2 separate regions of the Homo sapiens genome follow, and region 1 is linked to region 2. Evidence: fine-mapped expression QTL. A gene starts in region 2. The other region holds a variant in brackets. All regions are shown on one strand. Distances are between the middles of the regions. Region 1 has its middle 16 kb from the start of RAB3IL1. Region 2 holds the start of INCENP (inner centromere protein).

Region 1 (5,531 bases), 190 kb before region 2:
ATTATGCATGTAATCCCAGCACTTTGGGAGGCTGAGAAGGGAGGATCACTTGAGCTCAGGAGTTCAAGACCAGCCTGGGCAACATGGGGAGACCCCATCTCTACAAAAAATCAAAAATTAGCCAGGCGTGGTGGTGCAGGCCTGTAGTCCCAGCTACTTGGGAGGCTGAGGCAGGAGGATCACTTTAGCCTGGGAAGTCAAGGCTGCAGTGAGCTGTGATCATGCCACTGCACTCAGTCTGGGCAACACAGCAAGACCCTGTCTTAAAAAGACCAAATTAATAACAAACTTTAAGACGAAAAACATTATTAGTGTAGAGGTGGTCACTATGCAGTAATAATAAAGTGATGACAATGTTTAAAAAAAATTCACCAGATAGATATAACCATCTAAATTAATATGTGCCTAATAAAATAGCCTAAAATATTTAAAGCAAAAATAATTAAAGCTACAGGGGAAAATAGACACATCTATCATTATGGTGTGAGATGTCAACAAATGTCTCTGAACTACGGCTACATCAAGGCAGCAAAACATCAGGAGCTGGTGGCAGCAGAGACCACTGGCCTTGGTAGTAACTGAAGTATAGAGCACTAGATCAAAGCGAACCGATAAGCAATTTGATCCCTAGGTCCCCTCCTCTACTCCATGCCACTGGCCAACTGCCCCTTTCTTAGTCTAGCATAACACTGGAGATTTATTCTCTGGAGAAGGCAAAACAGAAGGTCTTTGGGCCAGTAGCTGAATAAGAGGGTTAAGTGATTATATACACACTGAAATCCAAGACCTCCAACCCTCTTCTGTCACTTGTCAGCCAAAGTGGCAACTCACTCAGTCACCAGGAGGGTAAAGACAGACTTTTACCCTCCAGACAGCCCCTCTATGGGACTCTGGCCAACCCAAGAAGAGAGATCTAAGACGAATGTTACCCAACAAAATATCCATCCAGCTCAAAGTCAACATGCTTGCCATCAGTTTTTAAGATCTCGCTCTTAATAATGAGCAATCAAGGATTATTAGACAACTAAGGAGAACCTCTACCTTAAGAGAGACCAAACCCAGTAAGCAGAAGAAAAGCAACTTGCAGGAAACAGAGACTCTGTAGAAAAAAGAAGAGGAGGTGAAGAGGAGGAGGAGGAGAAGGAAGGCAAGGAGGAGGAAGAAGGAGAGGCATTAATAACCTCAGGATGAGAAAAGAAGGTATTGCATTCATGAAATAATAACCTGATTCTATGAAAGTAAACATTCACAGAACAACAAAAACTATTGGAAAATAATATATTTTTTAAAAGCATGATGGTAGAAATGAAAACAATGAGTAAGGTTGGAAGACACAGTTGAGGGAATATCCTTCAGAAAGAAAGAAATGGAAAATAGTGAAAAGATTAGAAAAGTAGAGAATCAATTTAGAAGATTCAATATCTGAATAAAGAAGCAACAGAAGAAAATGAATGAACTGGCCAGGCATGGTGGTTCACACCTGTAATCCAAGCACTTTGGGAGGCTGAGGCAGGCAGATCACAAGGTCAGGAGTTTGAGACCATCCTGGCTAACATGGTGAAACCCCGTCTCTACTAAAAATACAAAAAATTAGCTGGGCGTGGTGGCGGGCGCCTGTAGTCCCAGCTACTCGGGAGGCTGAGGCAGGAGAATGGCGTGAACCCGGGAGGTGGAGCTTGCAGTGAGCCGAGATCTCACCACTGCACTCCAGCCTGGGAGACAGAGCGAGACTCTGTCTCAAAAAAAAAAAGAAAAGAAAATGAAGGGGGTAAAGCATCAAATAAATAATTCAAGATTATTTCCCAAAACTGAAGTATATGAGTTTTCAAATTGAAAAAGACCACCTTAGCTGGACATGGTGGCTCACATCTGTAATCCCAGCACTTTGGGATTCTGGTTTATAAAAAAATTAGTGTTATACTGTAAGATTTTTTATTTGCTTATATCAGTCTTCAAAAATATCCATTTTAATAGTTCATTCATTCAGCAGTTATTTGTTTGGTATTTCTTTGCCTGACAGTCACTCTTCCAGGCACAGGGTGTATAGCAATGAGCAAAACAAGGCCCTGCCCTATGAGGTTTACATTCTAAGCTTTATAGGGCTTACAATGTAATAAAAGACATTAAAAAGAAATAAAAGACATAAATAAAAGAGAAATCAAAGACATAAATAGAAAATAGTGATAAAGTCTTCTAGAACTTTTTTTTAACTCAACATTATATCCAAGACTTACCTTATTTTATGTAACTATAGTTCATTTTTTTTTTTTTTTTTTTTGAGACGGAGTCTCACTCTATCGCCCAGGCTGGAGTGCAGTGGCACAATCTCAGCTCACTGCAACCTCTGCCTCCAGGTTCACGCAATTCTCCTGCCTCAGCCTCCTGAGTATCTAGGATTACAGGCTTGCACTACCATGCCCAGCTAATTTTTGTATTTTTAGTTGAGACAGGATTTCACCATGTTGGCCAGG[C/T]TGGTCTCAAACTCCTGACCTTGTGATCTGCCTGCCTCAGCCTCCCAAAGTGCTTGGATTACAGGTGTGAACCACCATGCCTGGCCAGTTCATTCATTTTTATTGCTGTATAATATTCCATGATAGGACCATAACTGTGGTAGGATAAAAATGGCCTCTCAAAGATATTGAATCCTAATCTTTGAAAACTGTAAATGTTACCTTATATGAAAACAGAGTCTGTAAAGATGTAATTAAGTTAAGGACCGTGAGATGGGGAGATTATTCCAAATTATTGGAGTAGACCCTAAATGCAATCACATGTATCCTTATAAGAGGGGGGCAGAAAGAGATCTGACACAGACAAAAGAGGAAAAGGCACAAGATGGAGGAGTGTTGTGGCCAAAAGCCAAGGAGTGCTGGCAGCCACCAGGAGCTGAAAGAGACAAGAGAGCCTCCAGAGGGAGCATAGATCTACTGACATCTTGCTTTAGGCCCAGTAATACTGATTTTGGACATCCTGGCCTCCCGAATGGTGAGAAAATAAGTTTCTGTTGTTTAGAGTCACGTAGTTTGTGATAATTTGTTACAATTATCATTAAAAAAAGTAATGCAGATTTTGGAACCAAGAGTGGAGTGCTGCTGTAACCAAAACCTAAAAATGTGGAGGTAGCTTTGGAATTGGGTAATGAGTAGAGACGAAGAATTTTGGGGAGCATGACAGAAAAAGCCTAGGTTTCTTTGAACAGATTGTTAGTAAAAATATGGATATTGGCTGGGTGTGGTGGCTCACGGCAACATGGCGAAACCCTGTCTCTACTAAAAATGCAAAAATTAGCTGGGCATAGTGGTGTGTGCCTGCAGTCCTAGCTACTAGGAAGGCTGAGGCAGGAGAATCACTTGAACCCAAGAGGTGCAGGCGGCAATGAGCCAAGATTGCGCCACTGCACCCCAGCCTGGGTAACAGAGCAAGACCTTGTCTCAGAAAAAAAAAGAAAAGAAAAAGAAAGATGGCTATTAAGGCTCTACCAGTGAGGACTCAGAACAAAATGAAGAAAATGTTACTAGAAACTGAAGGAGACGAGGTCCCTGTTCTATAGAGGTAGAAAGTCTAGCTATACTTTGTCCTACAGTTGCATGGAAAGCAGAATTTGTGAGTGATGCACTTGAATATTTAGCTGAGATGATTTCCAAGCAAAAGAGATGGGATCTTCTTTTGTCATCCAGGTTGGAGTGCAGTGGCACAATCCTAGCTCACTGCATCCTCAAACTCCTGGGCTCAAGTGATCCTCCTACCTCAGCCTCCCAAAATGCTGGAATTACAAGTATGAGCCACTGTGCCTGGCCTGAGTAAATATACACACACACACACACACACACACACACACACATATGTATATATATACACACAATATATATTGTGTGCATATATACATATATTTGTATATATACATATATATGTGTATGTGTGTGTGTGTGTGTGTGTATGTATATATATATATATATATATATATATATATATATATATATATATTCTATGCCTAAAGAAAAGGATCAGATGTCAGTGCAAATGGTATAGTAGAAAACTTCAAAAGTCCCTAAGGGCTTTGAAAAGCTCCTACATAGTCCAGGGAATAGAGGTGCACATGCGTGCCTAGGGCTGGGTGCATGCTCAGAAAAGACCTGAAGGGGTCCTAAATTCCCACCTCTACCTGATCTTCAGGCTCTCTGTAAGCAGAAGACAAAGGTTAAAGCACAGTTGTAAATTGCCTGGCTTAGAGTTGAAGGTATGTGCCGACACACATACAGAGCCATTCTGCAAAGACTGGAAGATTTTTATCACTGTTCTAGGTATTTAAGAAAATCTCTGTCAAGTCATTAGCTGATCACTAAGCTAATGAAACAAAGACTTTAGTGGATATACACAAGAAAAAATACAGACTTTACAAAATTAGTTCAGAAAAGTCACCAAAAAACAAAACAAAACAAAACAAAAAAATCCCAACAAGTACTACAAGCCTCAATAACAAACTCTGGGGTGCTGGGAGATTTCAGATTTGATTTCCAGAGTTGCTACATTTAAATATTAAAAATGTCCAGTTTCAAACAAAAATTATGAGACATTCAAAGAAACAAGAGAGCATAGTTTATGTGTGGGGAAAAAATAAACTAATAGAAACTGTTAGGTCAGGTGTGTTGGCTCACGCCTGTAATCCCAGCATTTTGGGAGGCCATGAATCACGAGGTCTGGGGTTCAAGACCAGCCTGGCCAAGATGTTGAAACCCCATCTCTACTAAAAATACAAAAATTAGCTGGGTGTGGTGGCACGCACCTGTGATCCCAGCTACTTGGGAGGCTGAGGCAGGAGAATCGCTTGAACCCGTGTGGCAGAGGTTGCAGTGAGCTGAGATTGAGCCACTGCACTCCAGCCTGGGTGAGAGAGCAAGACTGTGTCTCAAAAAAAAAAAAAAAAAAAGAAAGAAACTGTTTCTGAGGAAGCACAGACATTAGACTTTATAGATAGACTTTAAATCAACTATTTTATTGTATTAGTTAATTAATTATTTTTTGAGATGGAGTCTTGTTTTGTCACCCAGGCTGGAGTGCAGGGGCACTATCTCAGCTAACTGCAACCCCCACCTCCCAGGTTCAAGTGACTCTACTGCCTCAGCCTCCCGAATAGCTGGGATTATAGGCACCTATCACCATGCCTGGCTAATTTTTGTATTTTTAGTAGAGATGGAGTTTCACTATGTTGGCCAGGCTGGTCTCAAACTCCTGGCCTCAGGTGATCCACCTACCTCGGCCTCCCAAAGTGCTGCGATTACAGGGGTGAGCCACCACACCTGGCCTAAATCAACTATTTTAAATCTACTCAAAGACCTAAAGGAAACCATGAGAACTATATCTCACTAAATATAGAGTATAAATAAAGATAAATTATAAAAAGAAAACAAATAGAAATCCTGGAGTTTTAGGTATATGCCAAGAGGAACATTTAAAAAAAAAAGAAAAAAGAGAAAAATAAATTCTGGAGTTGAAGAGTATAATAACTGAAATAAAAATTCGCTAGAGGAGGT
Region 2 (5,000 bases):
AAATAACAAAGGCAAAAACAGAATTGATAAAGAGAGGGAAGAAAGGGAGAGGAAAAATACTACAGACGACCTGGGAACAGGGTAAACTATCTGTTGGTAGCTGACCGTGGATGTACAAATCTCTTCAAGATTGAACTGCCTTATTTTACAGGTAACAGCAACCTTGACTCACAGAGTAAAGTGACTTTGTCTAAAGCAGTTTCTCAACAGCAGCAATTCTGGTATCTGGGGCCGGGTAATTCCTTGCTGTGGGGACTGTCTTATGCACTAGATGGCGTTCAGCAGCATCCCTGGCCTTTACCCACCAAATACCACTAACCCCTTCTCCCAAACCCAAATGAATTCACACACTGCCAAATGTGGGGGGCGGAGGTGGGATAAAACCTCCTCTGCATGAGAACCACTTCTCTCAAGAAACGTCCAGTACCAGGGTAGGTGACCAAGGATTCTGTCGCCCAAGAGATGACAGAAGGCTCTAGATAAACGCACACTCCGTTGCCATTCACAAGGCGTTTTGTTTTTACTTCTCAAAAGCGGCAGAGATTTTTTTTTTGAGACGGAGTTTTTTGCTTTTTGTGGCCCAGGCTGGAGTGCAATGGCGCGATCTCGGCCCACTGCAACCTCTGCCTCCCGGGTTCAAGCGATTCTCCTGTCTCAGCCTCCCGAGTCGCTGGGATTACAGGTGCAAGCCACCACGCCCGGCTAATTTTTTTTTGTATTTTAGTAGAGACAGGGTTCCACTGTGTTGCCCAGGCTGGTCTCGAACTCCTGAGCTCAGGCAATCCACCCGCCTCGGCCTCCCAAAGTGCTAGGATTGCAGGCGTGAGCCACCGCGCCCGGCCAGAGATTCTTTTTTTTTTTTTTTTTTTTTTTTGAGACGGAGTCTCGCTCTGTCGCCCAGGCTGGAGTGCAGTGGCGGGATCTCGCCGGCCAGAGATTCTTTATAGGACATATTAGTCCTTGTCTTTCCCCCCCCGCCTCCATATTGGAAAGATGAACTAATTGAAATATGACTTAGTAAAAACATTGTGCCAACTTGAAACCTTGATTTAGTAAAACATCTCAATGTTTAGATCCTTTGTCCAATGGTAGTATTTATCAGATGTATTCAGCTTGCTCAGAAAACCAAAAGGGCATTACAACCACAAAAGCAAAGAAAAATAAGAAAACGTCCCATGTTTGGATCTTGTTCTACTTGTAAAGATTAAATTGAAATGATTAGGCTTTTCGATTCATGAGCCAAATACCGTAACACCCTGGCCTTTGATGGGTTTGGATTTTTAACATTACTCCTGAGATTTCAGGAAGTGGGGTTACAGTTACACTCCTTATAGCTGCTAAGTGTATTAAGTTGAATGTAAGGATGCATAATATTGTTTGAATTGAGCCCCACTACCAATTCTTTAAAAAATGGCATGAATTCCTATACGTAAATGATTTGGTGGAACTATTCCATCATAATTTCTAAATTGTTTATATACCAAGGTAGCCTTAATTTGTATATGTTTCAGTACAATGAAATTTTACTCCCTCTGGGATGCTGTTTGGTTTGTATTTTGAGGAATGTTTTTCTCATGGGAAGAGGAACCTATGACTTCTGTACCTAGATAATTTGTTACATTAAAAAGCTGGTCTTTCAGCAATGTAAGTATATACATACATGTTTTTATGAGGAAAAAAAAGCAGCAGAGATCAGAAGACTGCCACCGTGCTTGGAGAAGAAAGAAAGCCGCGCGTGGCCTTCGCAGTGCTCGCCGGGACTCGTAGTTCCAGGTCTGCGGGCTCCTCCCAGGCGGGGATCTACTTCCTCTCTCGGCCGCGGCCGCAGCACCCGGAAGCTGAGGGGGCTTAAAGTCTTTCGCTTCCTTTCCCCGCCTCTTAGTCCCGCAGATTGCTAGTGGATATGGCCAATAGGAGGGCTGACTGGTACTTCCTGTTATTTGATTGGCTTAAAATTTTGCAACCGCCCGGACAAACTTGCCGAGGATTGGCTGAGCCTTCAGTTTTGAAAATCATAGTTTTCGCCCGCGCTGCGCCGCCTGGTTGCTCCTCCCGTGCGGTGAGTCCCGAAGGCCCGGAGCCAAGTGGGTCTGGGCAAGCGGGGCCTTACCTAGGGATACCACCGGACTTGGATCGGAGCAGCCTTCAGGGGACGTGGCGCAGTCGAGTGAGTGCGCGTGGGCGTGGGGATTGGGGGGTGGTTCGCGATTTTTTCCCCGGTCCTCTGCTCCGTCCCTGTCGACTCCGGACCAGGGTCGTGACTCCCCACCCCAGCCCCTGGCTACCTGGGCATATGAGGGTCACCTCTTCCAAGTGGCGAGGTCGCCTGCCTTGGTTCTCGGGCCCGAGATGCCTCCCACCCTTTCCACCTAGGCCCTCAGCTTCCTAGAGCATAGCCCCGTTCCCTCCGCTCCCGGCTGCTTGGCACCTTGTGCCTGTGAGGATTAGTGTTGACTTGGACGCGCAGGAAGCCCGAAACCAACCCGGTTGTTTGGCGGAATGATGCCAGATGGCATTTCTGTGCAGTTAAACCCCTCTCTCAACGCCCCCGCCCCCAGCTGAGCAGCATTTTAAACTGACCATTTCCGGAGGCTGGGCCGCCCCTTGTCACTCCCCAAGCCTGTTCGCTGTCAGCGGTTCAGTCTCATTCAGCTAACATGGGTTGCTCGCGGGGTTGCCCAGAGCCAAGACTGGGCACCTGCCTTTCAGAAGTTGATATCTAGAAGGCGGTATAGCCAGTGGTTAAGGGCACGGTTTAAAGGCGGTATAGCCCGTGGTTAAGGGCACGGTTCTATTTATGCCCCTGATTTACCGGCTGATTTTGACTTCTCTTTGCCTCAATTTCCTCATCTGCCCATGCGTATCCTCAAGGTTGTGGTGAGAATTAAATGAGATGATGTCTGACTCGGGCATGGAGTATGACTCAGTAAATGGGAGCAGCTGCTATGCGCTTTCTGCACAGAGGTGTGGTAGGCGCCCAACTTACAGCACCCTGAAAAGGACAGGAGTCATAGAGGAGGACGATGGGGCCTTCAGTCTGGTGTATGGTGTGGAAGAAGTGTTGGAGAGGAGGAAGACTGGAGAGTGTCTTCCTCGGTGAGGTGTTGAGTGCTCTTTATCTGTGTGCAGGTGCTTACATGGGTTGAAGAAGAGATTTTTGCTGCTCTTCCAGGAGCCTGATTCTTGGTACACTGATTCCTTCTTTTTCAGGGTCACCTCTGTTTTAACTTACGGTAACCCTTTTTAAATCGTTGCGCTAAGGTCTGCTAGAAGCAAACCTCCCCGTGAAAGAAGTCCAATTGCTTTCATGGACTTTGTGAAAGAAGCTCTCATCCACGTTGCCCATTTGAACAAATACTTTTTAAAAAGTTAGCCAGTTGTTGCTTTTCTCTGCAAACCTTTGGCTTCCTTAAACAGTTTTCTCTTTTCTGGCCTGAGGTCCTGCGCTTTGCCAGGGCTGTGGTCTGGGTGCAGAAGGGTTAGGGGAAGGTGAGGGATGACAGTGAAAAGGGCTTGCCCATGATTGGCTGGCTGCAGAGCCGAGGTTTCAGCCCAAAGCCTGTACGATCCTGCCCATTTGGCCCTGCCCTGATTATTGCTGCCCTTGGCATCTGGGAACAGGGGTTTTGAACATGTGTTGGTCAGTTCTAACCTGTGCAGATTAAGTTTATTTGGTGCCCTTTGTGTGGTGGGATGAGCACCTATAGGATGTTTATTTCTAGGTGTAGAGTTGATGGGTGGATTAATTCATTTAACAAATAGTCCTTGTTGCCAGGCACTGCTGTGCTCTGGGCATTCAACGATGAGCAAGACAGACAGGGGTTTGCCCTCAGAGAGCAATTGTTTAGTGGGCAGGGACAGGCAGTAAGCAACAGGTAAACAAGCACGCAAGTGCTCTGCAGAGAATTACAATCAATGAATGGGATCATGGCTGGGGCTACTTTAGATTGGTTTTCAGGTTTTCCTGAGGATCTGAGATCCAAGCCATGAGGAGTGAGCCATACAAAATGTGAGACAATGTTCCAGACGCAGGGCAGAGCTTGTTGAGGAACAAAGACTACTGTGTCCTTGAATCAAGCCTGAGGAAGTCCCATGAGACTGAAACCTGACCTGGTGCTACGCCCTGTGAGGGATCAAGGGGTCAGCAATTTATCCCTTCCTTACAAGACCTTCCATTGTAGGTGGGAGGCTGAGTTGTGCATGGTTTTTTTTTTTTTGAGATAGAGTCTCCCTCTGTTGCCTGGGCTGGAGTGCAGTGGTGTGATCTTGGCTCATTGCAGCCTCTGCCTCCTAGGTTCAAGCGATTCTCCTGCGTCAGCCTCCTGAGTAGCTGGGATTATAGGCGTGCACCACCACACACAGCTAATTTTTTTGTATCTTTAGTAGAGACTGGGTTTCACCACGTTGGCCAGGCTGGTCTTGAACTCCTGACCTCGTGATCTGCCCACTTCGGCCTTCTAAAGTGCTGGGATTACAGGCGTGAGCCACCGTGCCCGGCCAGTTCTTGGTTTTAAAGAGGTAAGTCAGGATGGTGGATCACTGCCATTGACTTGAGGCATGCAGTTTGTTGTTATGGCTTATGACCACCACCCATTCATTTGTTCTTTCACTCATTCACCTGTTGGGATATTTAATGAGCCCCTGTTGTGATGTAGTAGAATATGGTTGTCTCTTGGAATCCTCAGGGGATTGGTTCCAGGACCTCCTTTGGATACCAAAATCCACAGATGTTCAAGTCCCTGATATAAAATGACATAGTATTTGCATATAACCTACACACATCCTCCTGTATACTTTATATCTCTATATTATTTATAACACCTAATATGATGTAAAAGCTATGCAAGTAGTTGTTATACTGTATTATTAGGGAATAATGACAAGGGAAAAGAGTCTATACATGTTCAGTACAGATGCAGCTCTTTTTCAAATATTTTCCACTGGTGGTTGATTGCATCCATGGATGTGGAACTCACAGATATGGAGGGCTGATTGTACTT

Evidence for each region. PIP is the estimated chance that this variant, and not a neighbour inherited with it, causes the effect.
Region 1: its variant is fine-mapped to the expression of INCENP in atrial appendage (GTEx, PIP 0.93).

The regions. Positions count from the first base shown.
Region 1 is chr11:61,930,512-61,936,042 of GRCh38, forward strand. It overlaps a transcript of RAB3IL1 not described here. Among named protein-coding and RNA genes, the nearest start is that of RAB3IL1, 16 kb to the left of the region's middle. The variant C/T (reference allele first, on the strand shown) is at 2,472.
Region 2 is chr11:62,121,997-62,126,996 of GRCh38, forward strand. INCENP (inner centromere protein) reads left to right here and starts at 2,015. Exons shown (of 19, transcript NM_001040694.2): 1 at 2,015-2,167. LOC124902681 (a long non-coding RNA gene) reads right to left here and starts at 1,715. Exons shown (of 2, transcript XR_007062697.1): 1 at 1,661-1,715. RefSeq lists enhancers at 1,626-1,715, 2,246-2,315, 2,305-2,886.